Homo sapiens: one gene and its partners. The protein of the gene in region 2 interacts with the protein of the main gene of each other region in a pairwise test. Each region holds a gene or a part of one and is shown on either strand. Other genes may lie near its edges.

The links.
Region 1: the proteins of CTSD (region 2) and MOGAT3 interact in binary tests that used the Homo sapiens proteins (3 or more experiments, as listed by UniProt).
Region 3: the proteins of CTSD (region 2) and SUMF2 interact in binary tests that used the Homo sapiens proteins (3 or more experiments, as listed by UniProt).
Region 4: the proteins of CTSD (region 2) and GPR141 interact in binary tests that used the Homo sapiens proteins (3 or more experiments, as listed by UniProt).

The regions. Positions count from the first base shown.
Region 1 is NC_000007.14:101,198,030-101,205,931, forward strand, and holds the start of MOGAT3 (2-acylglycerol O-acyltransferase 3), read right to left. Parts: upstream 3,008-7,902; 5' UTR 2,826-3,007; coding exon 2,717-2,825; intron 2,487-2,716; coding exon 2,379-2,486; intron 2,276-2,378; coding exon 2,205-2,275; intron 802-2,204; coding exon 597-801; intron 337-596; coding exon 162-336; intron 1-161. UniProt on the Homo sapiens protein: Catalyzes the formation of diacylglycerol from 2-monoacylglycerol and fatty acyl-CoA. Also able to catalyze the terminal step in triacylglycerol synthesis by using diacylglycerol and fatty acyl-CoA as substrates.
Region 2 is NC_000011.10:1,753,928-1,760,951, forward strand, and holds part of CTSD (cathepsin D preproprotein), read right to left. Parts: exon of another isoform or gene 6,421-7,024; intron 5,713-6,420; coding exon 5,589-5,712; intron 5,161-5,588; coding exon 5,042-5,160; intron 3,630-5,041; coding exon 3,397-3,629; intron 1,102-3,396; coding exon 979-1,101; intron 212-978; coding exon 67-211; intron 1-66. UniProt on the Homo sapiens protein: Acid protease active in intracellular protein breakdown. Plays a role in APP processing following cleavage and activation by ADAM30 which leads to APP degradation.
Region 3 is NC_000007.14:56,074,286-56,081,170, reverse strand, and holds the end of SUMF2 (inactive C-alpha-formylglycine-generating enzyme 2 isoform b precursor), read right to left. Parts: intron 6,586-6,885; coding exon 6,435-6,585; intron 4,338-6,434; coding exon 4,282-4,337; intron 3,070-4,281; coding exon 2,985-3,069; intron 2,808-2,984; coding exon 2,663-2,807; intron 2,250-2,662; coding exon of another isoform or gene 2,132-2,249; intron 1,819-2,131; coding exon of another isoform or gene 1,740-1,818; exon of another isoform or gene 1,644-1,739; coding exon 1,559-1,643; coding exon of another isoform or gene 1,300-1,558; 3' UTR 501-1,299; downstream 1-500. Other genes in the region: PHKG1 (phosphorylase b kinase gamma catalytic chain, skeletal muscle/heart isoform), read left to right, coding at 1-117. UniProt on the Homo sapiens protein: Lacks formylglycine generating activity and is unable to convert newly synthesized inactive sulfatases to their active form. Inhibits the activation of sulfatases by SUMF1.
Region 4 is NC_000007.14:37,678,789-37,686,784, forward strand, and holds the start of GPR141 (probable G-protein coupled receptor 141), read left to right. Parts: upstream 1-4,977; 5' UTR 4,978-5,115; intron 5,116-6,390; exon of another isoform or gene 6,391-6,462; coding exon of another isoform or gene 6,463-6,510; intron 6,511-6,671; coding exon of another isoform or gene 6,672-6,795; intron 6,796-7,996. UniProt on the Homo sapiens protein: Orphan receptor.

The DNA of each region.
Region 1 (7,902 bases), on a different chromosome or scaffold from region 2:
TACCGAGTCATGCCCTGGAGAGCCCACGTGGGCCTCGGTGCAGGGCAGGGCGCTGGTCTCTGGGCACCCGGATCCCCCATGCAGGGACCTAGATGTCTGGGGACTGAGAGAGGGCATAAACCAGCAGAGAACTGACAGGTAGGGCCTGCACGCGCACTCACCCGTGCCTCAGCGCCAGGCGCACGAAGCCTTTGCGCTTCTGGAGCGTAAGGCAGTGCTCCCCGGGGACTGAATACAGGGCCTCGTGCGCACCCCCCACCATGATGACCACGGCCTGCCCGAGCTGGGGCTGGGACAGGATGAAGTCCAGGCTCTGGCGGCTCACCGGACAGAGTCCTGTGGGCAGGAGGAGGTGGAAAGTAGTTCCCATCTGCCTCCACGGCACCCCCGCCCCTCACCCAGCCTTTAGTTCCAAGCCCCCTACCCCCATCTCCAAGGCGGGGAACCTACCCAAATGCTCACTGCAAGTCTGGGCAGTGCTCAGGCTGGCCCCTGTCCTGGGTGGGGGACTTATTATGGGGGGGGGTGGTCCCAGAGGGGCTGGGGAACATCTGGTCAGGAGTCTCCTCCCGTTCTCCTCCTCCCATTCGGCTCACCAAAGGACATGATGTAGTCGCGATAGACCGGGAGGTAGAAGAGGCCAGCCAGCACGGCTAACCAGGGCCGGAGCCCCGGGAAGAGCTGGGAGAAGCCATTGCTCTCGGTGGAGAAATTACAGAGGAAGCCTGTACACATGATCCCATGAGGGTGGGCGCCCAGCACGTAGTTCCGATCCGGGGGCAGCTCTGCTGTTTTCACCAGCTTCGGGGTGTTGAGCAGGATGAAGGGAGGATGGAAGGCAAGACACCGGCTGAAAAGAGGGGCCCTCCACCCCAACAGAGTTCCGAGTTAAAGGTTCTTAGGATAGGGTCAAGGGCCACCCCAGCAGAGTTCCGAGTTAAAGGTTCTTAGGATAGGGTTAAGGGCCCAGGTTTTTTTTTTTTTTTTTTTTGAGATGGAGTCTTGCTCTGTAGCCCAGGCTGAAGTGCAGTGGCACGATCTCGGCTCACTGCAACCTCCGCCTCTTGGTCCCGGTTCAAGCTATCCTCCTGCCTCAGCCTCCCGAGTAGCTGGGATTACAGGCATGCGAAACTATGCCCAGCTAATTTTTGTATTTTTAGTAGAGACGCAGTTTCACCATATTGGCCAGGTTGGTCTTGAACTCCTGACCTCGTGATCTGCCTGCCTTGGCCTCCCACAGTGCTGGGATTACAGGCGTAAGCCACCTCACCCACTCTCTCTTTTTTTCTTTTCTTTTTTTGAGGCAGAGTTTTGCTCCTGTTGCCTAGGCTGGAGTGCAATGGCATCATCTCAGCTCACCACAACCTCCGCCTCCCTGGTTCAAGCAATTCTCCTGCCTCAGCCTCCAGAGTAGCTGGGATTACAGGCATGTGCCACCATGTCCGGCTAATTTGTTTGGTATTTTTAGTAGAGATGGGGTTTCTCCATGTTGGTCAGGCTGGTCTCGAACTCCTGACCTTAGGTGATCCACCCACCTCAGCCTCCCAAAGTGCTGGGATTAAAGGCTTGAGCCACCACAACCGCCTTTTTTTTTTTTTTTTTTTAGAGACGGTCTCACTCTGTTGCTCAGGCTGGAGTACAGTGGCGCAATCATGGCTCACTACAGCCTCCAACTCCTGGGCTCAAGCAATCCTCCCACCTCGGCCTCCCAAAGTGCTTGGATTACAGGCATGAGCCATGGTGCCCCACCAAGGCCCCGCTCTTGAACATCATCCACTCCCAGGCCGGGCGCGGTGGCTCAAGGCTGTAATCCCAGCACTTTGGGAGGCCGAGGTGGCTGGATCACTTGAGGCCAGGAGTTTGAGACCAGCCTGGCCAACATGTTGAAACCCTGTCTCTACTAAACTACAAAAATTAGCCAGGCATGGTGGCGGGCACCTATAATCCCAGCTACTAGGGAGGCTGAGGCATGAGAATAGCTTGAACCTAGGAGGCGGAGGTTGCAATGAGCTGAGATTGCACCACTGCACTCCAGCCTCGGTGACAGGAGACTCAGTCTAAAAAAAAAAAAAAATCCATTCCCTGTCCCACTGCCTGAGCTTAGGCAGCGGGGAGCTCAGGCCCCAGCACAAGGAAGGGCTCCTAGGTGTGGGAGGGAGATGGGGAGAGGTAGGAAGCAGTTTTTCTGCAGGGTGACCCATCACCTTGACAGGATAATAATCCCTTAGTTGTCTCCAAATTGCCCGGTTCCTTATCCACTCCGAACGCCTTCCACCTGCGGACAATGAGATACTGGTGGACGAACCCCCGGAGTCACCTCCCCTCACCCCCCATGTCCCCACCATCTCTGGCTACCTGGGCCCCCATCCGGAGCTCACCTTGGTTGGGTGTGTCCCAGTCCACATAGAGCCACACCAAGTAAAAAACAGAGAAGGGCCAGAGTGACGTGAAGAGGAGGACAAAGACAAGAAGGGAGAAGAAAGGGCCTGGGGGAAGGGAGAGAAAGAAAAGAGTTCACTTCTGAAACTCCATCATTCCCTCCAGCTGCTCCCTTCCCTTCCTCCCCTTCAGAACAACCAGCTCTCTCCTCTGGCCCTCTCCCAGACCAGTCACCTGGTCACTGTCCTCAGGCATGCAAGCCAGCAGCCCAGCCACTCTCCCTCCAAGCCCTACTCCCCTGGCAGACCCCAGGCACCCACGCCTCCCCAGCTCTCACCCATGAAGAGGAAAGTGAGCACATATTGGTAGGCGCCCACTGCTTCTAGATGCTGCTTCTGCAAGGTTTTGGAAGTGGTTGGGGGCTGCAGGGTTGTGGCAACTCCCATTGCAGAAGCTCCCCTCTTCCAGCAGGATCCCAGAACCCGGAGGACAAACGATGAAGGCTTGGATGTGGACCTGGGCAGACTTTCTCCCTACAGGAGCCCAGCTTTGGGGGCCTGGCTAAGTCGCAAATCACCTCCCAGAGTAGCGTGTGTCCGTAGGTGTGTGAGTGGGGAGATCTTTGGATCCAGAGCCCCAGATGTCTCTGGGTTTTTTCTCAGCCTGATCTTTGAACTTCCTGTCAGTCACCAGTCTGGGCTGGCTGCTGGGTGGGGCTGGGAGGCGTAAGGGGTGTGCAAGGGAGAGGTGACACCCGAGTGCCTCAGGAATTGATGTTGGAGTGGACAAGAGTGATCTGGCTAGCCCCACCCACTGGGTCCCAGGTGCTGGAAGGGGCCAGAAGCCCTGCTGAGACTATTTGACCTCCAGTCGGGGTGGGGGCAGGGCCTGGTCCGGGGCATCTCCAGGAATGTCAAGGTCACCACCCCTGCCTGGACCTCCCCCGCCATGCACAAACACACACAGGCTGCAGGTCTGTTTCCCACTTTAATTTTTTTCTTTTTCTTTTCTTTTCTTTTTTTTCTTTTTTTTTCACACGTCTCGGTCACCCAGGCTGGAGAGCAGTGGCACGATCTCGGCTCACTGCAACCTCCGCCTCCCGGGTTCAAACGATTCTCCTGCCTCAGCCTCCCGAGTAGCTAGGATTACAGGCGCGCCACCACGTCTGGCTAATTTTTTTTTTTTTTTTTTTTGGATTTTTAATAGAGATGGGGTTTCACCATGATGGCCAGGCTGGTCTCGAACTCCTGACCTCAAGTGATCCACCCGCCTCGGCCTCCCAAAGTGCTGGAATCACAGGCGTGAGCCACCGTGCCCTGCCGCCAGTCTTTAATTTCACTTCCCCACCTGCAGTCACCCAGCGGACAGGCGAGGCCAGGCGGTGGGGCGCGCCTCCGTGAGGACCAGGTGTCTGTCGGCGGGGACACCATAGCGCGCCTGGTGCTCCTCGAAGAGCTGCGTGAGTCGCCCCACGTAGCGCGCTTGCAGCGTGTCCACCTGGGCCGGACTGGGCGGGGGGCTCTGCTGCACGGGAATCGCCGACCCCACTGCGGGCGGGACGGGAGGCGATCTGGGCTGGGATCCCCGGTTCTCCTCCTCTTTTCCTCCTTGGGGATAGGCGGGAACAGAGTTCAGGGCTGGCGCGGTGGCCAAAGGCCAGTCTGGGTGGCCCCAACCCGGGACGGGGAGGGAGCGGGCCCTGGGCCAGGATCGCGGGGCGGAGGCCGGGGCTCACCTACGGTGCGGATGGGCGCGCGGAAGGGCAGCGGGAGGCCCCGGCGGCCCAGGAACAGCTGCAGGGCCACGCTTAGCAGCGGACGCAGAGCCTCCTGCGTCCTCTGCACCCACGAGCTCTGCGGGTTCGGGAACTGCTGGAAGAGCTCATTCTCCCTGGAGAAGACAGGCACTAGGGAGGCCGCAGGAGAGCATGGCGCGGCTGACTCCTGGCCCCGGGGTCCGCGGGTGGCGCCACTCTCCTCCTCCCCGGCCCGGCAGCCCTGGGGCGTCCCCACCGGGTCACGCTCGGGTCCTCACCCGAGTTCCAGAGCTGACTTAACCAATCTCTTCTGATTCCGAATCGGCAAGCTCAGTTGTCCGGGTTTTGCCTCCAGCGCCTGCAGGGGCCCTCCCACGCCAGGACAGCCACCTGGCCACCACTGAGGCAGCGGGGCCTTGACAAAGGAGACCAAACCTGGGGGGAGGGCAGAAGCTGGGGGACCCAACGCCTGGGTCTTATTTACTTATTTATTTAGGGACGGAGTCTTGCTCTGTTGCCCAGGCTGGAGTACAGTGGCCTGATCTTGGTTCACTGCATCCTTGACCTTCAGGGCTCAAGTGACCCTCCCACCTCAAGCCTCCCAGTAGCTGGGACCACAGGTGTGTACCACCACACCTGGCTAAATTTTTGTTTTTGTTTTTTCTTGTGTAGAGATGGGGTTTCACTGTGTTGCCCAGGCTGGTCTTGAACTCCTGGCCTTAAGCGATCCTCTCGCCTGCGCCTCCCAAGTGCTGGGATTACAGGTGTGAACCACCGCACCCAGCCAAAGCCTGGGACTTGGAAAGAAGAGTGGAGAGGACATGGGGAAAGGAGAGCTGGGCCCCAGTGTCCCCTGGGAAGAGGATGGTGGGGCGGGAGACAGCAGCAAGGTCCTCCTCTTCTCACCACCTGACATGATGTAGTCCTGGAAGAAGAGGAGATGGAACCAACAAGGCAGCATGAGCAGGTGTGGCGGGAGTTTGGGGAAGAGGCAGGAGCAGCCCGTGGGCTCTGTGCAGAAGTTGGCGAAGGCTCCCACGACCAGGACCCTGTGAGGGTGGAAGTCAAAGAGGTAGTTCCAGGAGGTGCCCAACTTTGCAGTTTTAACTAGCTGGGGAGCAGACGGGCGCACCCCACCCCAACGGTGAGATTGCACTTTGGGAGATGGTGGTCCCAAGAGTCTATTCTGAAGCCCCAACCGCACCCAGCACCCCACAGCCCAGGTCCTCACTGAGAGGGGGAAGTAGTCACAGAAATGTCTCAAACTGCCCAGTTGCAAACCCAGGCAGATCTGCGGGCTCCAGCCCTGGGTATGTTTCTATCCCAATAGAGCCAGACCAGGTAGAGGACCGCCAGCATCCAAGCCCAGCCGAGGAATGCAAGAGCCAGGCTGCCAGGTGCACCTGGGCTGGAAGATGGGGCAGGGGGAGCTCACAGTACAGGTGTTTAAGACCATTCAGTTGTTGCTCCTACCCATCCAGTGGCCTGAGTGGTGGGAGCTGCAGACCAGTCTTCTGTGGCAGGCTGAATGCTCCAGTCTTCAGTAGGGAACTGCTAGATAGCACAGAGGGCACCTGCACGCCTTCAGACCAGTCTGCAACCTCAGGTTGAGTAGCAGTGAACTCAGGAGCCGGAGCAGTCCATTCACCCTGAAATTCCTCCTTGTCACAGCCTTTTCAGCAGCAGCCTGCTCTTCTTTTTCAATGTCTTCATGATCTCTGTAGAAGTAGAGATCAGGCATGACCTCCCACGGGTGTTCACAGGAAATGGTGCCACGCATGCGCAGAACTTCCCGAGCCAGCATCCACCACATCAGACCCACTGAGTGAGCTCCCTTGTTGTTGCTTGGGATGGCAATGTCCACATGGCGCAGAGGAGAATCTGTGAGACACAGAGCAAGGTAGGTAGGTTAACATAAGATGCCTCTGTGAGAGGCTGCTGATCAGCCCTGGGGTCAGTAAACACAAGAAGCCGTGGCTCCCGGAAGGCTGCCTGGATCTGGTTAGTGAAGGTTCCAGGAGTGAAGCGGCCAGCGATTGGAGTGGCTCCAGTGGCAGCAGCAAACTTCAGCACGGCCCTCTGGCCAGTATTTCTGGAGGGTATGACACTGACATCAGCGGGGTTTTCAATGGCAACAATGCCACGAGCTGCCAGCAGAAGCTTCTCCCAGGTCCTCTTCAGATTTGGGATGTAGATGCCATCACTTTTCCTTTTATACATGTACTGTTCCATCTGTAAGTCAAGGTTGGTGCCACCTAATTGGTTTCCTGCTGCAAGGAAATTAAGGACATCTTCCTCCTTCATTTGCAGGACATCAAGGGCTCCGGATGTTGTGAAAGTTTCTCTTTAAGTTACAACAGGAATCCAGAACAACGCCGGATGGAGCCCTCTGTGGGTAGCGTGGAAAGCTTTTTTTGTTTTGTTTTTTTGTTTTGAGACGAAGTCTTGCTCTGTCACCCAGGCTGGAGTACCGTGGCACGATCTTGGCTCACTGCAGCCTCCGTCTCCTAGGTTCAAGCAATTCTCCTGCCTCAGCCTCCTGAGTAGCTGGGATTACAGGCCTGTGCCACCACACCTGGCTAATTTTTGTATTTTTAGTAGAGACAGGGTTTCACCATGTTGGCCAGGCTGGTCTCAAACTCCTGACCTCAAGTGATCTGCCTGCCTGCCTCGGCCTCCCAAAGTGCTAGGATTACAGGCGTGAGCCACTGAGCCCGGCTTATTTATTTTTTTGAGTTGGAGTTTCATTCTTGCTGCCCAGGCTGGAGTGTGATGGCGCGATCTCAGCTCACTGCAACCTCCCCCTCCCAGGTTCAAGCAATTATCCTGCCTCAGCCTCCCAAGTAGCCGGGATTACAGGCGCCCGCCACCATGCCCAGCTAATTTTTGTATTTTTTAGTAGAGATGCGGTTTCACCATTTTGGCCTGGCTGGTCTTGAACTCCTCACCTCGTGATCTGTCCGCCTCAGCCTCCCAAAGTGCTGGGATTACAGGCATGGGCCACCGTGCCCAGCTTAATTATGTATTTTTTAAGTAGAGACAGGGTTTCACCATGTTGGCCAGGGTGGTCTCAAACTCCCAACTTCAGGTGATCCATCCACCTCAGCCTCCCAAAGTGCTGGAATTACAGGCGTGAGCCATCGCGCCCAGCTAATTTATTTTTTGTAGAGATGGGGGGGGTCTCGCTATGTTGTCCAGGCTGGTCTTGAACTCCTGGCCTCCAGTGATCCTCCGCCTGCCTTGGCCTCTGAAAGTACTGGGATTATAGGTGTGAGCCACTGTGCCCAGCCTGGGAAGTCCCTCTTTTGGTCTGTGCCCTCTCATGCACTTTTTTTTTTTTTGAGATGGAGTCTCACTCTGTGGCCCAGGCTGGAGTGCCGGGGCACAATCTCAGCTCACTGCAAGCTCTGCCTCCCGGGTTCATGTCATTCTCCTGCCTCAGCCTCCTGATTAGCTGGGACTACAGATGCCCGCCACCACGCCTGGATAATTTTTTGTATTTTTAGTAGAGACGGGGTTTCACCGTGTTAGCCAGGATGGTCTGGATCTCCTGACCTCGTGATCCGCCCCCCTTGGCCTCCCAAAGTGTTGGGATTACAGGCGTGAGCCACCGCGCCCGGCCCCTCTCACACACTGTCTCCAGCTCAGGCAATACAGGGGAAGGGGAAAGTGGGAGCCAGGGAAGCTCCCAGGTTCCCACGAGGGTCTAACATTCTGCCTCTCCCTTTTCCTCTTGTCTTCGCTTTTCTGGGTCTCTCCCCTCTACG
Region 2 (7,024 bases):
GTGGTAGTGGTGGCCTTGGGGCTCCCCCTGCCAGCCCCAGCCCCAGCCCCAGCCCCCGGCGCTCACCTCGCCCTGAATCAGCGGCACGGCCCCGATGGCCTTCTGCAGCTCGCGCACCTCATCCACCGGGCCCACCATGAGGGAAGTGCCTGTGTCCACAATGGCCTCACAGCCCTCCTTGCACAGGGTCAGCCCGCTGGCCACCTCCACCCTGCGGGGAGTCAGGGCGTGAAGCCCCTGCCGGGACTGGAGTGTGCCCTGGGGGCCCAGTGCCCCTCCCTGGGAGCCCCTCCCCTGGCTGGGCTGCACTCTCCTCCCCTCAGGGCTCCTGGAAGCACAGCCGGCTGTAAGCCCTCCAGGGAAGAGGGTGGGAGAGGAGACACAGAGTGGTAGAGGGGGTGGGAGACCCTCAGGTGGTGGTGAGGGGCATGGAGGGATGGAGGGGATGGAGGGGCATAGAGGGATGGAGGGGATGGAGGGGATGAAGGGATGGAGGGGCATGGAGGGATGGAGGGATGGAGGGATAGACAGATGGAGGGGATGGAGGGTCATGGAGAGTCACAGAGGGATGTGGGGATGGAGGGATGGAGGGATGGAGGGGATGGAGGGATGGAGGGATGGAGGGGATGGAGGGATGGAGGAGATGGAGGGTCATGAAGAGTCACAGAGGGATGAGGGGATGGAGGGGATGGAGGGCATGGAGGGATGGACAGAAGGGATGGTGGGTCATGGAGAGTCACAGAGGCATGGAGGAAATGGAGGGATGGAGGGATAGAGGGAATAGAGGGGATGGAGGTGATGGGGAGCATGGAGGGGCAAGGAGGGGCATGGAGGGCTGGTCTGACCCCATCTCTTTCTTGCCCAGCTCCCACTACTCCCCACATGCAACCCCCACCTGCAGAACCGGGGTCCTCCAGGGTCTCCGCACACCGCCCCCGCCCACAGAACCCAGGGGAGCCGACTGCAGCCACTACTCACTGGTCCAGGTGGACCTGCCAGTAGGCCTTGCGGGTGACATTCAGGTAGGACAGAGAACCCTTGTAATACTTGGAGTCTGTGCCACCCAGCATCAGCTCACCCCCAGGCTGCGCATCTGGGTCCCTAGGAGGAAAAGGGAGGAGTCAGCTGCCACGCCACCCCCCAAGCACAAGAGTGCCAGGTCAGGAGTAAGAGGGTGAATGTGGCAATCAGGGAGAGCTTCCTGAAGGAGGGGCCTTTCTGAAACTGCAGGGATGGAAAGGCCCAGAAGGCAGGAGGAGGGACAGACTCCCTTCTTCCCGGGGTAGGGCTGCTCTGCGTGGGCCCAGCCTGGCCCAGAAGAGGTTTTCCTCAACCCTCAGGTTCTCCTGGTCTGCTCAGGAGCCAAGGTTCAGCCAGACATCAGGGTCAAGGCTAGCGGCAGACAAGGAAGTGAGTGCCAGGAGCTCCACTGGGGAGGACCCTGTCTGTCTGTCTGGAAGAAAAAACCAAAGAAGGCTTCCAGGAGGGAGTGATGGCACAATCTGGGAAGTTGGGATGGCTGGTTCTGGCCGCAGGGCCTCTGCACTGGCTGCTCCTGGGAACACCCTCCACCTGCATCCCCGAGCCACGTCCGCTCATCTCCCCCTCATCCAGACCACTGATGGCCAGCCAAGGTGCTCCTGGGCAGGAGCGCACTGCACTTCCTAGGACCTGCAACCCATGTCGCCCGGGTTTGTTTCTAAACATTGCTCAAGTACAGCTTTCAACGCAGCAAATCCTGCCGGTCCTGGTAGAGAAGCTCTCTGTGTCTGGGGCGGTTCTGCCATCCCGCCAGAGCGTCTGCAGCTAAGCTGGCCACCATCCCACTGCCTGTCACTCGAGGCAGTGCCAGGCCTGACCCAGTCCTCCCAACACCGATTGGGGCCTCCGCCCTCCTCCAGCCTCCTCCGCCTTTGCCTCTTGTCAACACCTCTGCAATCCCAAGTGTAGAAACCTGATCAGCGCCTCCCACCCCTCCTCTCCTCACCAAACATGCTTTCAGAAGCCCTCAGACCCTCCCTCCTGCCTGGCTCCACTTCCTGCCCAAGCTGCTGCCTTGAGACTACACCTGGGCACTCACAACCATGTGCACCTCCCCCACCTGGGCACTCACTCTGTGTGCCCCTCCTTCCACCTGGCACTCATGCCTGTGTATGCCTCCCCCGACCTGGGTACTCATACCGTGTGCCCCTCCCCCACATGGGCACTCATGCTGTGTGCCCCTCCCCCACATGGGCATTCATGCCTGTGTCCCCCTCCCTGACCTGGGTACTCAGGCTGTGTGCCCCCTCCCCATGTGGGCACTCATGCCTGCATGCCCTCTTGCCCTCAGGGGACCCCTTTTCACCTGGCTGCCTCCCCTGTGCCCCAAGGCTCCTGGGGAAATGGCCCAGCCGGTTCACCTGTGTCCTGGCCTCTAGTGAGCAGCTTAGCCCTGGGTGTTGCTAAGGAGTATTCACTGCCCAGGCAAGGGGCAGAGCAAAGAGGCCCAGCCAGCCCTACAGCCGGAATTCTGCCGGAAGCGATCCAAGGTTAGGGGTCAGGCCCAGAGACTCCAAGTGCCAAGTGAGCCACGTGAGGTAAACCTGCCCCTGTCAGCCCTGGAGAGTGTGGGGCAGTGACCAGGCGCAGCTCAGGGCAGGAGGCCGCCGGCTGACACGCTGCCCACCCCCAAAACAAAAGCCCCCAACCCCCAGTCACCCCTCTTATGTGGAACCCTCCACTCAGGTCTGCCCCGAGAAGAGGAAACTAACTGAGTCCGACGTCCCCTTCCCAAGGTCACCTGACCATGGGTCACCCAAGCTGGAGCAGCGGCTGCAGGTGGGGGCCCTGGGGGAGAACCCTTTTCCCAGAAGGAAGGGCCCCCTATGTTCCTCCTCGAGGGCAGCCGGCACCTGCTGGGGACGCCCACAGAGCTGCTCGCAGCGTGGTGCCGGGGACCCATACGCACCCAAGGTCACCTCCCCGGGGATCCCCGGTCCCCTGGGCACCATGACCCTCTCCACCATCAGCAACCCCGGGACCAGGACCACATGTGCCCATCACCAGGTCTGGGGACCGACGGGCCGACTGAACCAAGAGGAACTGCCACGACCCCTGACCTGGGTCCATTCTCATAGGAGGGAGGCCCAGCTGCCAAGGTCCCAGGACCCACAGCCTGGCCCGAGCCCCTCCCACTGGGAGACCCCGGCCAAACAGCTTTCTCTGTGCTGCCGCTTACTCCTCTGCAGAAGGGCGGCCAACCCCCGCCTCCCGGATGCCCTGAGGTCAGAGGTCAGGAGCTCTGGCACAGCAGCAGGGAGGGGGCAGCACTGAGAGGGGGTGCCTAGAAGGCTCCCCGTCCAGCCCCGCCCTGCCTCCCAGCAACGCGGAGCGAGAGGGAACCCACACGCCCACCTGCTCAGGTAGAAGGAGAAGATGTTCTGGTCCACCAGCTTCTGCTGCATCAGGTTGTCGAAGACGGGCAGCACGTTGTTGACGGAGATGCGGGGGTAGGCCATGCCCAGGATGCCATCGAACTTGGCTGCGATGAAGGTGATGCCTGGCTGCTTGGTGGCCTCCCCAAAGACCTGCCTCTCCACTTTGACACCGCCCAGGGCAGAGGCTGACGACGCTGACTGGCAGGGCACCTGCAGGCCAGGGCAGAGTCAGTGGGCAGCAGACAGGCTGAGCCCTACACCACTCCCTGAGCATGAGGCTACAAAACCCAGTTCAATGGATGCCCATCCCACACACGATGGGGCCCAGAGGGCCCAGAAGAAAGGGCTGGAAACCCTGAGCTGAACACCGCTGGGGATGGGGACACGGGGTATGGCGGGGCCCTCTTCGTGGAAGTCATCAGGGCTCGGTTTACACGAGATGGGAACCAGGCAGGAGCACAGACGGGCAGGCCCCTTGCTCCGCTCCCTGCTCCGACCTCTTACTCCCACCACCAATGACAGGCAGGTCCTGCTCCTGCCCTCAGCGCTGGGAACAAGACACAGCCTGGGCCAGGAGCCCGAGAGATGGGGAACCTGCCGACCCCATCCCAAGCTCACAGCCATACTGCCCCCTTCCCCTTCTCTGCCTGTCCCCTCCCCCAGCCCTGGATGAGGCTGCAGAGAGAGAACACGGCCAGAGCAGGATGTGGGAAGGGAACGACAGCTTGAGGCTGACACGGGGCGGAGGGGGCAGAAGAGGGCGGAAGAGGGCAGACGGGGCAATTTCCTGTTCAGGCTGAGCAGGGTCCAGACAGGAGGGCTCTGAGGAGCCCCCAGTACAGACTGGACTCCAGCCCAGCAGGGAACTGTTAGGAGCAGCTTCAGCTGGAGGAAGGGGCCCTCTTCCCGGGTCCCTGGGCCTGCAGGGGGGCTCTGCTGCCCTCCTGGCCCGCTCCAGAGCTGGGGGCTGTGTCACCATCCCGTAACTCCTGAACCCCTTGTGGCCTGGTCCACCCCCAGCAGACAGCTCCGAGGTGAGAACTCACTGAGGCCCAGGCAGGGTGACAAGGGCCAGCTCACCCTCTCCTAGGGCAGGGAGTTGCTCTGCACAGGGCCCTGAGGATGGTGGATGCAGGCGGGGCCCCCAACAGCCACTGCTGCTCCCCCTCCCTTGCCCTCCCAGGCTCCTGCCGGTGACTCTCCGCCAGCAGCCCCCACAGCGGGTTCCTGGTACATCCTCCCAACCCCAAGCCTCCCCAAGCCCTCGGCCTGCTGCAGGGACCCTGTGCAGCCCCAGGTCCAGCCCTCAACACCTGCTGGCACCTCAAACCCAATGTGCCAAAAAGAGCCCGATCGATCTGCCCTGTCCTCCCTCCCACTCATTGTGGCCTGACTCCGGGGACCCCTGCCCCTGTACCCCCTGGGTTTGAGGCTGTCCCTCCAGCCTGCACACAACCAGGCCCATTCCCAGACCCCTCCTCACCCTGCTGACTGCCCCGGCCACCTGAGGGCTGGGGTTGGGCTGGGATCACCGAGCCCTCCCTTTCAACCACATACCCACGGTGGGTGAACCCCACACCCTGGCACCCTCGAGTCCTGGGAAAGGCCCCAGAGGGACTCACCGACACAGTGTCCTGGCTCAGGTACCCGGAGAGGCTGCCCGAGCCATAGTGGATGTCAAACGAGGTACCATTCTTCACGTAGGTGCTGGACTTGTCGCTGTTGTACTTGTGGTGGATCCCTGCCCCGGGCGACAAGGGGGCCCGCCGGTCATCCCGCAGCCCACGCCACGGCCTTAGCCCTCCCATCCCCCTACAATCTACCATGGAGCCCGCACCCCCCAAGCTGCCTCCCCAGGGTGGGATTTGGAGGGGATCTGAGGCCCACCATCATGCCAGAGCCCCGGGACTGTGGGCTGTGACCCCGGGCCTCCCTCCCAGCCACAGCCGGCTCCCTCTGTGGCCACCCCAGCCCCAGCCCTGCTGAGAGCAAGACCACAGCTGGTGGTTCACCCAGAAAGTCAGTGGCTGGAGCAGGGTGGAGGGCTGGCCTGGCTCACGGGGCCAAGAGGCAGGAGAATTGCGTTGCCCAAGTGATTCCTGAGGCAGCCCTGCAGCGACATCCCGGAAGGGCAGGACCTGGGCGACGGGGCCAGGGTTCGTGACTCACAGCAAGCGATGTCCAGCAGTTTGCAGTGGATGGAGGGGACCCACAGGTTGGAGGAGCCCGTGTCGAAGACGACTGTGAAGCACTGGGGGGGCGTCCCGATGCCAATCTCCCCGTAGTACTGGGCCTGGCAGGGGACAGGGTCCGTCAGGGATGGGAGAGGGGGCCCCATCTCCCCACTGGGCCTCAGAAGGCCCGGCTGTCCCCAGAGCCAAGGCCCATACTGGAGGGAGGGGCATCACGGGGCCCACAGCTGCCAACAGCCACCCACTCCCACCTGCTCAGCCTGCAGGGAAGATGGGCCAGGTCCCCAGCCCTCGGTCCTAATGCCCACGGGTACTTGGGGTCTCTAGACCCCTGGCTTCTGTCACCTACCCCTGCTCAATACATGGTGAGGCTGAGGACTTCCCCACGGAAAAGACAAGGCCAGAGGTCAAGCCAGGGTGGGGACAGACGTGGCCCTCAGCCTGAGCCCCGGGTGCAGGAAAGCCCGGCCTGGAAGACTCCCCTGGTGGCCCGCAGTCCAAGGTCTGAGAAAGGAAGTGACTTCCTCCCCAGGTTGGGGCCATGTCAAGGTCTGATTCTGGGTGTCTCAGTGCCTGCCCTGCCCTCCAGGGTGAACCCCAGGCTTGGAGGGCTTCCAGGCAGAGGGGTTCAGCTGGTCAAGGGGAGAAGGTAAGCCTTACAATCACTGCCTGCCCAGCAACCCTGCCTTAATGGCCCAGGGCCTCAGTTTCCCCGTGTGTACACAGGGATAGCAGGCGCAGGTGGGGGTGCTGACTCAGGGATCAGGCAAGTACAAGGGGTCCCATGCCGCCGAGCCTCTCAGGAGGCAGAGAGTAAGAGGGTCCTGGAGTTTGGGGTCGCCTGGGCGCCCGCTTCCCCCAGGATTGGAGCCTGGGCCACCGTCAGCCACCAGATTCCTGGCACCAGCCCAGCCCAATGTTTCTCCAACCGCCTGGCTTCACGGAGCAGCAGCAGCTGCTGACTCATGGCCCCACAGAAGTGACCACTGGCAGGGGGACACTCAGCAAATTTCCATGTGTGTGTGTGCATGTGTGCGCATGCGTGCATCTGCTTGCTCGCGCGCTAGGACAATCAGGAACTGGCCAGTCGGGACCAGGCACACGGCGCCTGGTTCCCCCCAGGGCCCCCCTGGCCCAGTCACATGCCTGTGAGTCTTGGGCTTCCTGTCACAGCCAGGACTCGGGCCAAGCAGGACAGAGGGCAAGGCTCCCCCACAGTGGGCCAGAGCCCCGAGGCTGGACAGTAGGCCCTGGCCTCGAACTGACCCCATAGAGCTGGGACCAGGCTGACCAAGCCCCAGCTTGCTAGGTGGCTTCCAGAGTGCTCCACCTTGGATCCTGCTTCCCCCTGAAGGAGTAGTGGGCACAGGAGGGGCTGTTGCGAGAGGAAGAAGATGGGGAGGGGCTGGGGAG
Region 3 (6,885 bases), on a different chromosome or scaffold from region 2:
TACGCTTTCCGAATCTATGGCCACTGGGTGAAGAAGGGGCAGCAGCAGAACCGGGCAGCCCTTTTCGAGAACACACCCAAGGCCGTGCTCCTCTCCCTGGCCGAGGAGGACTACTGAGGGGCTGGCCAGTCAGGGAGGGCTAGGGGGCAGGTGGGGAGGGGAAGCCATGGAAATACAAGTCAAAGGGGTGAGATGCGTGCAGGCCTCTGCAGAAGGAGCACTTGGCCCTGGCCAGGAACCCCTGGAACTGAGGCCACGATCCCCTCTCAAAGGCTGTGCACAAGGGAAGTGGGTGTTCCCACCACACAGCAATACCTGCAGGCTGGGGCAGGCCCTGGGTGGGCAGAGATCACACGTGGCCTGAGAACCAGGAACCCCCTGCTCCTCTACTTCCTAGATGAGCCACCATCTCCATTTCTCTTTAGGGGAGGCCCAGAGTTACTGACACTCAGGCTTTCTTCCCTTAGGGTCACAGGGTGAGGATCAAAGACACAAATGTCTGAGATACACAATTGCAGGAGATTTTATTGGCCCCATGACATCCAGTGACAGTGTGGGAGCAGGCTACTCTCCAGGGACATGTTTTTGGAGGCATATGGAGAAGGGGGCCCAGGCGAGGTGGCTCACACCTGTAATCCCAGCACTTTGGGAGGTCGAGGTGGGAGGATCGCTTGAGGCCAGGAGTTCGAGACCACCCTGGGCAACAGAGCGAGATCCCATCACTACAAAAATTCAAAAAATTAGCCAGGCATGGTGGTGCACACTTGTAGTCCCAGCTACTCAGGAGGCTGAGGTGGGAGAATTGCTTGGGCCCAGGAATTCAAGGCTAGAGTGAGCCGTGATCACCAGTGCACTCTAGCCTGGGCAACAGAGAAAGACCCTGTCTCAAAAAAAAAAAAAAAAAAAAAAAGAATAGGAAGCTTCTGATATTTGTCTTTCTGGAGTACTATTTGCTTTGTGATTCCCACAATGCAATGCTTCACCTAGTACATCATCTGGTTCTCCCAGACCCTTTTAGGACTGAACTGTGCTTTAAATAGTTACATGTCTGCCTGTTACACAGTGGAAACTAGTTTCCTTCAGAGGGACACGAAACCACAGATGAGGCCACAAAGAAAGCATTCTCCTTCCACAGCAACTGGCTGAGAAAACAGAACCAGGAAAATTCTGCCTTGAGGAAACAATGTCAGCTTCCTGAATCATCCAGGGAGAAAGGGGGAGAGAATAGATTTTAAAATGCTTAAAAAATGGCCTTTCAGAGTGCTCTGTTCCAATTGTTTGTGTGTTTGCAATCCTGTGTCAATAATACTTGGCCTCTAACAGAAACACCTGGCCCCCAGCCATCGTCAACACACATTGGGCCCCTTCTCCAAAACACAGGAGGCTGAGTCCTCTCCTGCCCTGGTGAGAGGCGCCTGCCACAGAGGGATGGGAGACAGGGAAGGGGAAGTTCTTTCCTGAGGCTGAAGCTCTCGAGCTTGGAATTGCGCTGTTTGCAACATGGCCAGGGAATGACAGTGACCCTAGAAGGCTTTTCTCCTTGTCACCACCCGGCTGCTTACAGCTCCCCTGGCGGCCGGCCTGCGTCTGCAGCACAGCGGAAACCGAGGTTGTCTGAGGCTGAATCTGGAGTGTTGCCCATCCTGCCAGCAGAGAAGGGGAGAGAGGACAGACACGTCCTGAGAAAAAGGCCTAGGGCTTACCCATCTTGCCTGCCTCATCCGCAGGGCCGGCCATGATCAGGGAGCATGAGGGCTGGGGAGAGCATGGTCTGGAAAGAAGCCTGGTGTGAGGACAGGTCCTGAGCCTGTGCCAGTCCTGGGAGAAAGGGGACAAGAAGGGGCTTTGGGACAAAAGGAGTCTTGCAAGAGTAGGGGGAGGGACAGTGGCCCCAAGAGACAGCACTGAAGAGCAGAAAAGACAGTGACTAACTTCTATGTTAGCAGTTGACAACAGCTCAGTAGAGAAAACCTGTCCACAAGCAATGAGAATATCACGGCCGGGTGCAGTGGCTCACACCTGTAATCCTAGCATTCTGGGAGGCCAAGGCGGGCTGATTGCTTGAGTCCAGGAGTATGAGACAAACCTAGGCAGCATGGCAAAAACTCATCTCTACAAAAATTAGCCGCACCTGTAGTCCCAGATACTTGAGGAGCTGAGGTGGAAGAATCGCTAGAGCCTGGCAGTTTGAGGCTGTAGTGAGCTGAGACTGTGCCACTGCACTCCAGCCTGGACAACAGAGCAAGACTCTGTCTCAAAAAAAAAAAAGATTTTTCGTGTGCCCACCAGTTTGAAGAGTCAGTAAGTCCATGACCACCAGTAATGACCTACTGGTGTGGTCATTCTACTTCCCTCCCTTTGCCCACCTAGTGGTAAGGACAAGAGGAGAAACCCCATAATTAAGATGCCACACACAGTCTCCCTGGGTACCAAGAGCTGGCAGGAGAGTCACAAGGTGTCCTGGGTCCCTTTGCTTTTCATAGCAAGTGCTGCTGGCTTTCTTTTTTGTACCCACAACTGGGCACAGGCTCAGGGAGGTGCTGGGACCAGCTCATCACACACAGACGGTTGGTGGTGTGAAGGTAGGGACACTCTGGGACCGGGATTCAGACATCAGCCCCCAGCTACAAGGCCCCGTGTTGCCTGGGACCAAGCCCCTTACCTGGTGGTGACCCGGGCCCGGTGATTGGCAGAGCCATCAGCTGTGTCGATCCAGGATGCCCCCCGGAGGACGCGCATGTCCTGCTCAGCAGCCTGGTACGGTGATGCTGTCCACTCCCACACGTTCCCCAGGAGGTCATAGAGCCCTGCAGCCCCACCGGCGGGTCAGGCCAGGCTGGGACCCGCCGACCACCCCGCCTACCCTCTGAGGTCCTGGGGGCCAAATGGCAGAAGGGAGGTGCTTCCCTCTGCCTCCTCTCTCAGACATGATGGTCCCAACAGCCAGTTCATGGGCACAGCCGCAAGCCCAAGACAGCTCTTACCGTAGTTGTTCTGGGCGGGGAAAGCATTCACTGGGGAGACTCCATGGAAGCCATCCTCAGCTTTGTCTCCCTTGGGGAACTTTCCCTGATGGGAGAAAGGAAGGGTAAAGGATTTACCACCTGTCCCAAAGCAGGTCCTCATGCCTATCCAGAGGAAAACCAAGGTCGTCTTGCTGTTGCATCTGGGGAAGGGGAAGGGCACGGGGCGGTGACCTAAGATTCCTATCTAGAGCTCCCAAACCCATCACCTTACATCCCCAGGGTGACCCCCACTGCTGGATTAGGAAGAGTGTTTCCCCTGTACCCACAGGGCTCCAGGTCAAGCCCAGCCCACACCTGACTTCTCCACTCTCAGCAACATCCTGCCCTCTGCCTGGAACCCCACATGCCACAGTGCCTCAAGAAGACAGGATCCTCTGCATCCTGCCCCCATGTCTCATGCCTGAGCACTGCAGCCTATTCCTGCTGGCCTTCTCAGGACAGTGCTTTTTTATTTGCTTATTTTAGTTTTATTTTTTATTCACTTTTTTTTTTTTGAGGCAGGGTCTCGTTCTGTCGCCAAGGCTAGAGTACAGTGGTAGCTCACTGCAACCTCCGCCTCCTGGGTTCAAGTGATTCTCCTGCCCAAGCCCCAAGCAGCTGGGATTACAGGTGCATGCCACCATGCCCAGCTCATCTTTTATTTTTTGTAGAAGCAGGGTTTCACCATATTGGCCAGGCTGGTCTTGAACTCCTGACCTCAGGTGATCCACCCGCCTCGGCCTCCCAAAGTGCTGGGATTACAGGCGTGAGCCACTGCACCCAGCCCTACAACTCTTTAATAGAAAGTACTTACGCTGGCTGGGCACGGTGGCTCATGCCTGTAATCCCAGCACTTTAGGAGGCCAAGGCGGGTGGATCACCTGAGGTCAGGAGTTTGAGACCAGCCTGGCCAACATGGCAAAACCCCATCTCTACTAAAAATACAAAAAAATTAGCTGGGCATGGTGGCAGGCACCTGTAATCCCAACTACTTGGGAGACTGGGGCAGGAGAATCGCTTGAACCTGGGAGGCGGAGGTTGCAGTGAGCCAAGATCGCACCACTGCACTCCAGCGTGGGCAACAGAGAGAGACTCTGTCTCAAAAAAAAAAAAAAAAAGAAAGCACTTATGACCCATTGTCTTTTGCTTTACCAGCTTATGAGTCATCAGTTGCATTAGAACCCAAGCCTTCTGGATGCCGCGGCCTAACAACACAGTGCCCAGCCTCCAGCAGGTCTCTGTCAATGCTTGGTGAAAGGAGGAACGTAGGTCTTACCTGCCACAGGTTGGTGCGGTTTGGCTGGAACCAGTTCCCCCATGGGTAAACTTGACCTGCGAGGAGAGCAAGGAGGCAGCAGAGGAGGGGGAGGTGAAGAATTAGGGAAGGAAAAAAGAACACAGAAAGAGTGAGGGAATCAAAAGGAAGTTAGAGGGTGATGAGAAAAAAGAGTGAATGACCTGCTTTTATTTGCCATGCCCATCCTCTCCACTCGCTGAACTGCATTAGAGGGCCCTGGCCTCCTCATGTGCTCCAGGGCAATGTAATCCTAAGCATGGTTCTGGGACCTGAGCCAGTTTATAAAGCATCTGTTATCAGTTCATGTTGAGAAAAGTACAGAAATCGAGAAACTTGAAATTGGACTTAGATTGCATAAATGAATGAGCCAGAGGCAACCTCACAGGTCATATTAAAAACTTCGATCACTGGCTGGTCGCGGTGGCTCACACTTGTAATCCCAGCACTTTGGGAGACCGAGGCAGATGGATCACGAGGTCAGGAGTTCGAGACCAGCCTGGCCAACACAGTGAAATCCTGTCTCTACTAAAAATACAAAAATTATGCAGGGCATGGTGGCTCACGCCTGTAATCCCAGCACTTTGGGAGGCCAAGGCAGACGGATCAGGAGGTCAGGAGATCGAGATCATCCTGGCTAACACGGTGAAACCCCGTCTCTACTAAAAATACAAAAAATTAGCCGGGCGAGGTGGCGGGCGCCTGTAGTCCCAGCTACTTGGGAGGCTGAGGCAGGAGAATGGCGTGAACCCGGGAGGCGGAGCTTGCAGTGAGCCGCGATCGCGCCACCATACTCCAGCCTGGGCGACACAGCGACACTCTGTCTCAAAAAAAAAAAAAAAATAGCCGGGCATGGTGGCAGGTGCCTGTAATCCCAGGTACTAGGGAGGCTGAGGCAGGAGAATCCCTTGAACCCGGGAGGCGGAGGTTGCAGGGAGCTGAGATCGTGCCACTGTACTCCAGCCTTGGGCGACAGAGCTAGACTGTCTCAAAACAAAAAACAAAAAACAAAAAACTTTGATCACTGATGTACCTGGTGTTCACTGAAAGATTGTGTAGAGGGGTTTAATGTGCGGAGTTGCTTTTTGCTGTCCTAACTTTTTGTGTAATTAGGATTGCAGAATGACAAATGACCGAGTTAGGAGCAAACAGTGATTCTTTTTTTTTTTTTTTGAGACGGAGTCTTACTCTGTCGCCCAGGCTGGAGTGCAGTGGCGTGATCTCGGCTCACTGCAACCTCCACCTGCCAGGTTCACGCCATTCCCCTGCCTCAGCCTCCCAAGTAGCTGGGACTACAGGCGCCCGCCACCAAGCCCAGCTAATTTTTTTTTGTATTTTTAGTAGAGACGGGGTTTCACTGTGTTAGCCAGGATGGTCTCAACCTCCTGACCTCGTGATCCACCCACCTCGGCCTCCCAAAGTGCTTTGATTACAGGCGTGAGCCACTGCGCCCGGCCGCAAACAGTGACTCTTAACATTAATCTCTGTACCCCAGAGGCAGAAGTGTGTAGTCTTGGTAATTCTTTTTCCTTATGCTATGTTGCTCTAGTTATATTTATTGAAATGTAACATGTCTGTGGAATTTCCAATAAAATATTTTATGTCTGTTCTTTCAATTTTCCAGTTATTAATTTTTATGGTATTTTATATCAGTCTGAGATGGACTAGAAATTAAAAAAAAAAAAAAACACTGGTCCTCCACCACAGATAGCTTAAGAAGCACTGCTCTAGGGAACACAGACCCTTCCTGCCCCATCCCCCCGCTTTTTCTTTTGAGACAGGGTCTTGTTCTGTCACTCAGGCCAGACAGCAGTGGTGCGATCATAGCTCGCCGCAGCTTTGAACTCCTAGGCTCAAAGGATCTTCCCACCTCAGCCTCCTGAGTAGCTGGGACTACAGGCACATGCCACCAGGCCCAGCTCATTTTTGTATTTTTCGGAGAGACAGGGTCTCCCTATATTGCCCAGGCTAGTCTTTTACTCCTGGCCTCAAGCGATCCTCCTGCCCCAGCCTCCCAAAGTGTTGGGATTACAGGCATAAGCCACTGCGCCCAGCCCCTTTCCACCCTTTAAAGCCCCTCATGCTGGGCAGGATGGGGAGAAGAATAAAGGAAAATCGCCTTATCATCTGGATACCCTTCAAGCCCCCTCGGGCGGCAAACTCCCACTCTTCCTCCGTGGGCAGTCGTTTTCCCCGCCAAGCACAGTAGGCACGGGCGTCATTCCAGCTCACGTGTAACACTGGGTGCTCCAGTCTCTCTCGGATGCCAGAGCCAGGACCTGCAGGCTGACAGCCAGGATTAAGTGAGACAGGCTTCCGGGAGCGCATTAAGTCGGAGGCAGGCTAGGTTTAGGGCGCCCGCGTTCAGCTTTTACCACTAGATGGAGCAAGAGAGCTGGAAGAGAGCCGGGTGAGTGACCAGTGGTCGGAGTCAGAAAAAAGAGACTACAGGAGGCTGAAGGGAGAAATGGATGGGTAACAGGAAACAGGATTCGGGCAGGTGAAACAGGCCTGCTGAGCGCTTTCCCTGATATTCCCCTATCCTTCTTTGAAACTCAGTGTTCCTGGATGTACGAGGGGTAGAGA
Region 4 (7,996 bases), on a different chromosome or scaffold from region 2:
TATCTTTTTGTTAGCATTTTATTACCTGAGGGATTTGTAGTTAAGCCCCTTCTTTAAAAAAATCTTGATACTTGGATTTTGTGCCCTCTTTCTTTTTTTCTCTATTTTTCTAGAGATTCATTGAATTTATTAGTCTTTAAAAGAATGAACTTGTAGATTTATTTTCTCTTTTATATATTTGTTTTATCTTTCATTGACTTCTGCTTGATTTTTCTTCTTTCTTGCTGCTTACCTCGAGTTTCATTCATTTCACCTTTCCACCTCTACTATATGCATTTAAATATGACCTTAATTGTAATATTAAAGTTTTTATAAGTTGAATTTTCATTATCATTCAAATAACAGTATTTCCTAATTTTCATTTGTACTCACATTTTAGCTTGTGATTTATTTAGAAGTATATTGAGTACTTTTCAAACATATAAAGGTTTTAACATTATCTTTTTGTTACTGATTTCTAGCCTAATTGTGCCTTTTATCAGAAAATATACTCTGTATAGTTTCAGTCTTATTATATTTGTTATATTTGCTTTATATCTACCATTGGGTTAATTGAGGTTGTTCATATGATGTGAATTCTGCATTTGCTGAGTATAAGGAATATGAATTAGGTCAAGTTTATTGATTGCCTTGTTCAAGTGTACTATATTCACATTGAATTTTTGTTTGCTTGTTGTATCACAGAGAGGTTTGTTAAAATCTTCTACTATGATAATAAATTTGTCCATTTTCCCTTTCGTCATGTCATTGTTTTGCTTCACATATTTGAGACTAAAACTGCAACAAATTCAGAATTGTAATGTTTTAGAAAGATTGACACTTTTATTATGAAATTACCTCTCTTTGTTGCCAATAATGTTTCTTGCCTTAAAGTCTAATCTGGTAAGTGCTCAGTGCATTTACATATTATTATCATCAAATTTGGGGTTTTAAATTTGCTCTCTTACTCTTTGTTTTCTACTTATCTATTCATTCTATATGTCTTTTCTGTACTTTTTGGCATTTTTTTGGATAATATTTCTTCATTCCATTTTTTCCTGTTTTATCTTGCTAATTTTGTTGTTATTTTTTAGTCACTATTCCAAAGATGATGGTGAGCATTCTTGATTGATTAAAGTCTAATGTTAATTAGTACTTTTACCACCTTCAAGAAGATGCAAAGATTTTAGAACACTTGAATTCAATTTATATCTCTCCATGCTTTATCCCATTATTGTCAGGAATTTTGACTCTACCTATATTTCAAATCCTGTTAGGTGATTACTATTGTTATTGTAAATCTTTGATATGTACATAGGTTTACCCACACATTTGCTCTTTCTATTGCTCTTGGTTTCTTTGTGCAGTTCTGGCTCTCACCTGGGATTGCCTTTGCACTTTTGGAATCACTCCTTTTAGCATTTCCCTTAGTTCATGTTGGTGGGTTACAAATCATCATAGTTTCAGTTTGTCTGAAAATATTATTGTGTCATCAAGATGATGGATATTTTTATTGCATAAAGAACTCTAAATTAGCAGTTATTTTCTTTTACAATTTTGAAGATGTTGTTCCATTTCCTTTGGGTTCCATTGCTGTTGTTGAAAAGGCTGTCTTCAATCTTATTGTTGCACACTTAAAAGTTTTTGCCTCCGAACAGATTTTAAGTTTTGTTTTTGTTTTTTCTTTAGAGATGGAGGTCTCACTATGTTGCTTAGGCTGGTCTCAAACTCCTGGCTGAAAGCAATCCTATCATCTCAGCTTCTCGTGTAACATAATTTTAAAATTTCTTTCTTCATTTTTTTATTTCATATATTGGACCTTGGTAGAGTTTTTGTTGTTGTTTCTATTCTCTTTGGGATTCATAGTGCTTCTTGAGTCTATGTCTTTTTTTATTATGATTTTTTAAAAAATGTATTGCCCTTTAAAATATCGTTTCTTCCAAATTCTTCCTCTTGTTTCTTTCCAGAGCAACATTATAGGCATGTTAAAACTTTGCCCTATGTCTTTCATGACTTTTGTGTGATTTTATATAATTTTTATCTTTTTTTTGTTGCCATTATTCAATCTGGTATTTCTTTTTTTTCTTTTTCTTTTTTTTTTGAGACTGAGTTTTGCGCTTGTCACCCAGGCTGGAGTGCAATGGTGTGATCTTAGCTCATTGCAACCTCTACCTCCTGGGATCAAGCGATTCTCCTGCCTTGGCCTCCCTGGTAGCTGGGATTACAGGCACCCACCACTATGTCCAGCTAATTTTTGTATTTTTAGTAAAGACAGGGTTTCACCATGTTGGCCAGGCTGGTCTTGAACTCCTGACCTCAGGTGATCCACCTGCCTTGGCCTCCCAAAGTGCTGGGATTACAGGTGTGAGCCACCATGCCCAGCCCAATCTGCTACTTTCTACTGACCTATATTTCAATTCCATCATCCTCTGTGTCTAATCTTCTATTAGTCTTCATCAGTTAAGTAACTTTAGTTGTTTTATTTTTCAGTTTCAGAATTTCTATTTTATTAAAAAAATTCTCTAGTGTAAATTTTCTATATTTTGTGTACTCTCTTCAAACATTGATTACAGCTATTTTAAAACCAATCAATTCTGAATGCCCTTGTGCATTTGTTTCTATTTTCTGTTTATTTTCATGGTCTGTTTTTCTAGACTTATCTTCAGACATGGCTTTTAATAGTTATTGAAATTTGGACATTGTGTTTAAAAAGTTTGAGAGTCAATTCATTGATCTGGTTAGTGTTATCGTCCTCCAGAGAGTATTTACTTTTGCTTGATGTGTGTGAGGAGGTCGTTATGACGATGGCAAATCTCCTATCTATTCAGTGATTGTCTACCTAATTCAGCAATTTAGGTGATTTGAAATTGGGCTCCCACTTTGTGATGGTACAATATTTTTAGCACATGCTGTCTCCTAGGGTGTAGCCCTTCAGGGGTCCTAACTGAAAATTTGAGGTAATTATAAGGGCACCACCTCCTTGGTGGTCTCTGTTTGCTTCTTAAACTAGATTTCCTTAACTTCTGAGCATCTTAGCCACTGTATTTCACCTGTTTCTTCACCTCTCAGTGTCCAGTTTCAAATCAGCAGTGCCTTGAGTAAAAAGTACTCAGGAGTTGAAAATCAGATTCACTGATTTGTACTTCCTGTCTTCTGGGGATTTTATTTCTTCAAGGTGTCATTGCCTGGGCAGCTTTCTGAAGCCTTCAAACTTATAGGTTTTGCATTCTGTTCATTTTTGTAAGCTGCTCTCAGCAGGAGGGTTTGTCAGCAACAATCTTCTCTACAACTAATAAAGCTTGAAATATCTCTAGCATGAGTTATTTTGAAGCAGATAGCATTTTAACTCATATGGCAGAAAGAACGCACATCTGCTGAAATTGAAGAGTTTCCTGATGCAGAGGCCTTCTCTTCAAACTAAGAAACAAAGTTGGAAGCACTTAGAACATTATGTTTGGAGTAAGAAATGTGAATACTGATGAAAACAGAACTGCAAAAATTTCGCCTAAAATAATGAGTGTTTTAGCACTGTAAAGAATACCAGGAATCACCCCAAATTACCAAAGTTATCATTCTACTTAGGGACCTTAAAATAGAAAGAACCCAGGGCCAGTATCATTTTGATGCCTTTTAAAATTTCTTTTTGAAATAGTGAAATGTCACAATGGATTTTAAAAATAGGGGAATGTTGAAAATGTTGATATTTAATAAATTAGTACTTTTTAATTGACCAATTTCTATATAATATTAACATGCTGTCTACATCAGGAGTTCTCAACCCCTGGGCCACAGACCAGCAGTGGTTCGTGGCCTGTTAGGAACTGGGCTGTACAGAAGGAGCGGAGCAGTGCACGAGTGGGCCAGCAAAGTTTCGTCTATATTTACAGCTGCTCCCCATCACTTGCATTACTGCCTGAGCTCCACCTCCTGTTAGATCAGCAGCGGCATTAGATTCTCATGGGAGCATGAACCTTATTGTTGAATTGTCCATGCTAGGGATCTAGGTTGCAGTGTTCCTTATGAGAATCTAATGTCTGATGATCTATCATTGTCTTCCATCACCCCCAAATGGGACCATCTAGTTGCAGAAAAACAACCTCAGGGCTTCCACTGATTCTACATTATGATGAGTTGTATAATTATTTCATTATATATTATCATGTAATAACAATTGAAATAAAGTGCGCAATAAATGTAATGTGCTTGAATCATCCAGAAAACATCCCCACCCCTGTCTGTGGAAAAATTGTCTTCCATGAAACCTTTCCCTGGTGCCAAAAAAGGTTGGGGACCACCGATTTACATAATTAGAAAGTTTATAAAATCCTAATTTATAGAGTGGTCATCAAATGGTAGGAAAGTTCAAGCAGTTTGAGGAACTGATGTTTTTTTTTCTCAATACTTGCAGTGCATCTCTATGACTGTATGGGCAGCTTCTTCTGGAGATAATGTTGACAGTCTAAAAAGTTAAGCTGTGACGATTTACTCCCCTCCCCTGCCCCTATAGCACACTCTGATTTTAAATATTTTCTCTCTTAATTCTAATTAAATGACATAATTATAGTGCCATATCCCAGTCAATGCCATTTATCAGTGACAGCTAATTAACACAATTATAAAAGTGGGAGCCCTAAGTTACCAGTGAGGTATAGAGCAACTCTGGAAATTTTCTCCTTACTGAAAGGAAATATTACACATATTCCTTCACCAGAAGAACAATACACAGTTTACCTTCCCTTTTTGTTTTTGATAATACCACTTTGTTCCCCATTCTCTACAAAATTTAGTTTGAAGAACATTTTAAAAACTTGATTCATCGTAGTCATCAATCCTTCATAAATATTTCTTGACAATTGGCCTCTCTGTAGTTTGCAACCTGGACTACTCATGTTTAAGAGCTTGGTTTTTCAAGACTATTGTGTTTCAAATGGTTTTGAGGTTTTATGGTCTGTTGACATTCTGAGGAACTTAGAACACATTCACTTCCTTTTGCTTGGTGAGCTGTCCAGAGCCTTTGCAAATGCATGCAGAGCATGGAAATGACCCAGCTGCCCTGCTGTTGAAACAGAATCCTATTTGGAAGGCAGACATGTGGCCCATCTCTGTAGCCATCACTGAGAAATCTGGATTTTCAAGGTAAGTGCAGATGACTTAGGTTTGGGGAGACATGAATGAAAGTGCTATAGAAATAAAGCACACTTAATTTGTTGGCATAGTCCTAATTCAGAATCTTCAAATGGTTCTGCTCTAAAAAGCAAGCTTATTCTCTGACCACAACTCCTCCTTTATAGAAAGAATTGTTCTATTCTTACTGCTTAGGATATGCTGCTCTGAAAGTAAAACCTAATATTTATGGGTAAATGTGAACAAAAATGATTTCAGAATCTCTCTGTCAAAAAACCAGCTAAACATATCATAGAATTTTTTAGAGCAGTTGGCACTATTGAATTTGTGTATAATTATTCAAATGCTTATCTTTTAAGTGATGTCTTAATTTCCTTTTGTTATGAAAATCCTTTAACTCTATTACTGCATTATTTTCAGATAGAGTTTGAAACTATTCAGGCAGCCCTAGTCAATAGAAGGAAACAATCTGTAAGCAATCAAGTACTTAGAAATTTCTAAAAGAAGTATATTCAAAATAACATGTGAAATAATGGTAATTATAATTCTTTCCATCCCACTTTTAAAGTACTACTTAACAGGAAGGATCTGAAAATAACTTCTTAAATAAGATAAATAAAAAGAACAACATCTGTTCAAATAATTTTACTTTAAGTAAAATACTTTCTATACCAGTATTTTCTACTTCCAAGAAGTAATATTTTTCAAATATGTGGAATGAAATATAATGCAAAGTTTTTAAACAATAAGTCAGTAATGCCTAACCTGAATATAGGCATTTAATTTTGTTTCTTTTACAAATTTGTTATATGACTTTTGATAGGTCACTTAATTCTCTGGACTTCAGCGTTCTACATAACTGCACAATTACTTATCTGAGAAATTACTTATTAAGTACTCCAGAATTACATGTCTTTGTTTTCTGTTTTATTGGGTTTAAATCAGTTAATTAGGATTTTAATCAGTCAATAGAAGTAATGGGAAGACCAATGGATGAGGAATCAGGTGGTGTGAATTCTAGTCCTCTGTTTTCTAGTAATTGGCTGCATAATTTGGGGGAATATTGTCTAAGGATTCCAGACCAGGGGTTGGCAAACTTTTTCTACAAAAGCCTTGATAGTAAATATTTTAGGCTTTGCAAGCCAAGAGGTAGAACTGAGGCTAATATATTGGTACTTACATAACCATTTAAAACTATAAAAACCATTCGTAGCTCACAGGCTGTATAAAAACAAGAAGTGAGCCAGCTTTGGCTTAGGTGACACAATTTTCCAACTATTCTTCTAGCAATGATTTTCAACAATTATAAAATGGAAGTTGTAGACTGGATAAGAGATGCTCAGCTAAGGGAGTTCCTGGATGGTCTTTAGATTGATACACCAATCCTCTGAAATTGCATGCAAAAATGTAAGTGTGTGTTTTTCTTTTCTTCCTTTTGTGCGTGTGTGTGTTTCTCTCCCTCCCTCCTTCCTTCCTGCCTGCCTGCCTGCCTGCCTGCCTGCCTTCCTGCCTTCTTCCCTCCCTCCCTCCCTCCATCTCTCTCTCTCTTTCTCTCTTTCTTTCTTCAGGGCCTTTCTCTCTGTTGCCCAGGCTGGAGTTTAGCGACTCAATCATGGCTCACTGACTGCAGCATCGACCTCCGGGGCTCAAGTGATCCTTTCATCTCAGCCTCCTCAGTAGCTGAGACTACAGGTACTTGCCACCACACCTGGCTAATTAATTAATTTTTTTTTTTAAATAGAGACAGGGTCTTGCTCATGTTGCCCAGGTTAGTCTCAAACTCCTGGGCACAAGTGATCCTCCTGCCTTGGCTTTTCAGAGTACTGGGATAACAAACATGAGCCACTGTGCCTGGCAGCACTTTTTTTTTTTTTTTTTTTTTTTTAAATAAGAAAAACACGGATTGATTTTCAAAGTGGTCCAAAATCCAATTGTAGTTAAGGACCACAGGTCTAGCTAATTTCTAAAAGTGCTTTCCAAATTTAAAATCAATGAGCCTGTGAAATGTTTACTGGTGTCTACTATGGGTAAGCCATTGTGCTAGCACTATAAGAGACGTAGCATGTTGTGACTAAAATAATGTGTTAAATATATTGTTAAATAATATGTTAAAAAATATATTTTTGGGACAGGGCCTCGCTCTGTCTCCAAGGCAGGAGTGCAGTGGCACAATCACAGCTCACTGAAGCCTTCACCTCCTGGAATCAAGTGGTCCTCTCACTTCAGCCTTCCGAATAGCTGGGAGTGCAGGTGTGAGCCACCCTGCCTGCCTTTTTTTTTTTTTTTTTTCTTTAGAGAGGGGGTCTCACTATGTTGCCAAGGCTGGTCTCAAATCCCTGGGCTCAAGCAGTCTTCCTGACTCAGACTCAGACTAAAAATATTTTAAAGAAGTTAGAATATGTGCAAGTCTGTGCTGTCTTTCAAAGTAATAACATTGAAAACAATTTTCAATTGATCAAAGATTTCTGAGACATTGCTTTGCAAAGTGTTTTCAAAGCTAGTTCATACGTTATACCAAAGTATTTTCCAAATTATGTTATTGTCCCATCTTATTTTGAATGACAATGTTATTATTCGTGACAGTCATAATCAAACTTAATCTAAGCATAGTCTGTTTCCTAAAAACATAATTTCCTTAAGGGCAGGAACTATGCCTTTGCTACCTTTATATTTTAGAACAGGGTTTGACCCATAATAAGTACCCAGCATCTTTGGAATGGTTATATGAGTGAATAAGTGAATGAAATGATGAAGGTATTATCATGGAGATTACGTACCATAGATAGTGAAGGCTTGGAACTCCAGATGGTCTAAAAGCAGTAGTTGCTAAGTCCAAAGATGGCTTCTCTTTTCAAAATTGGATGTAACTGTGATTTCAAAATAATTGGCCAAC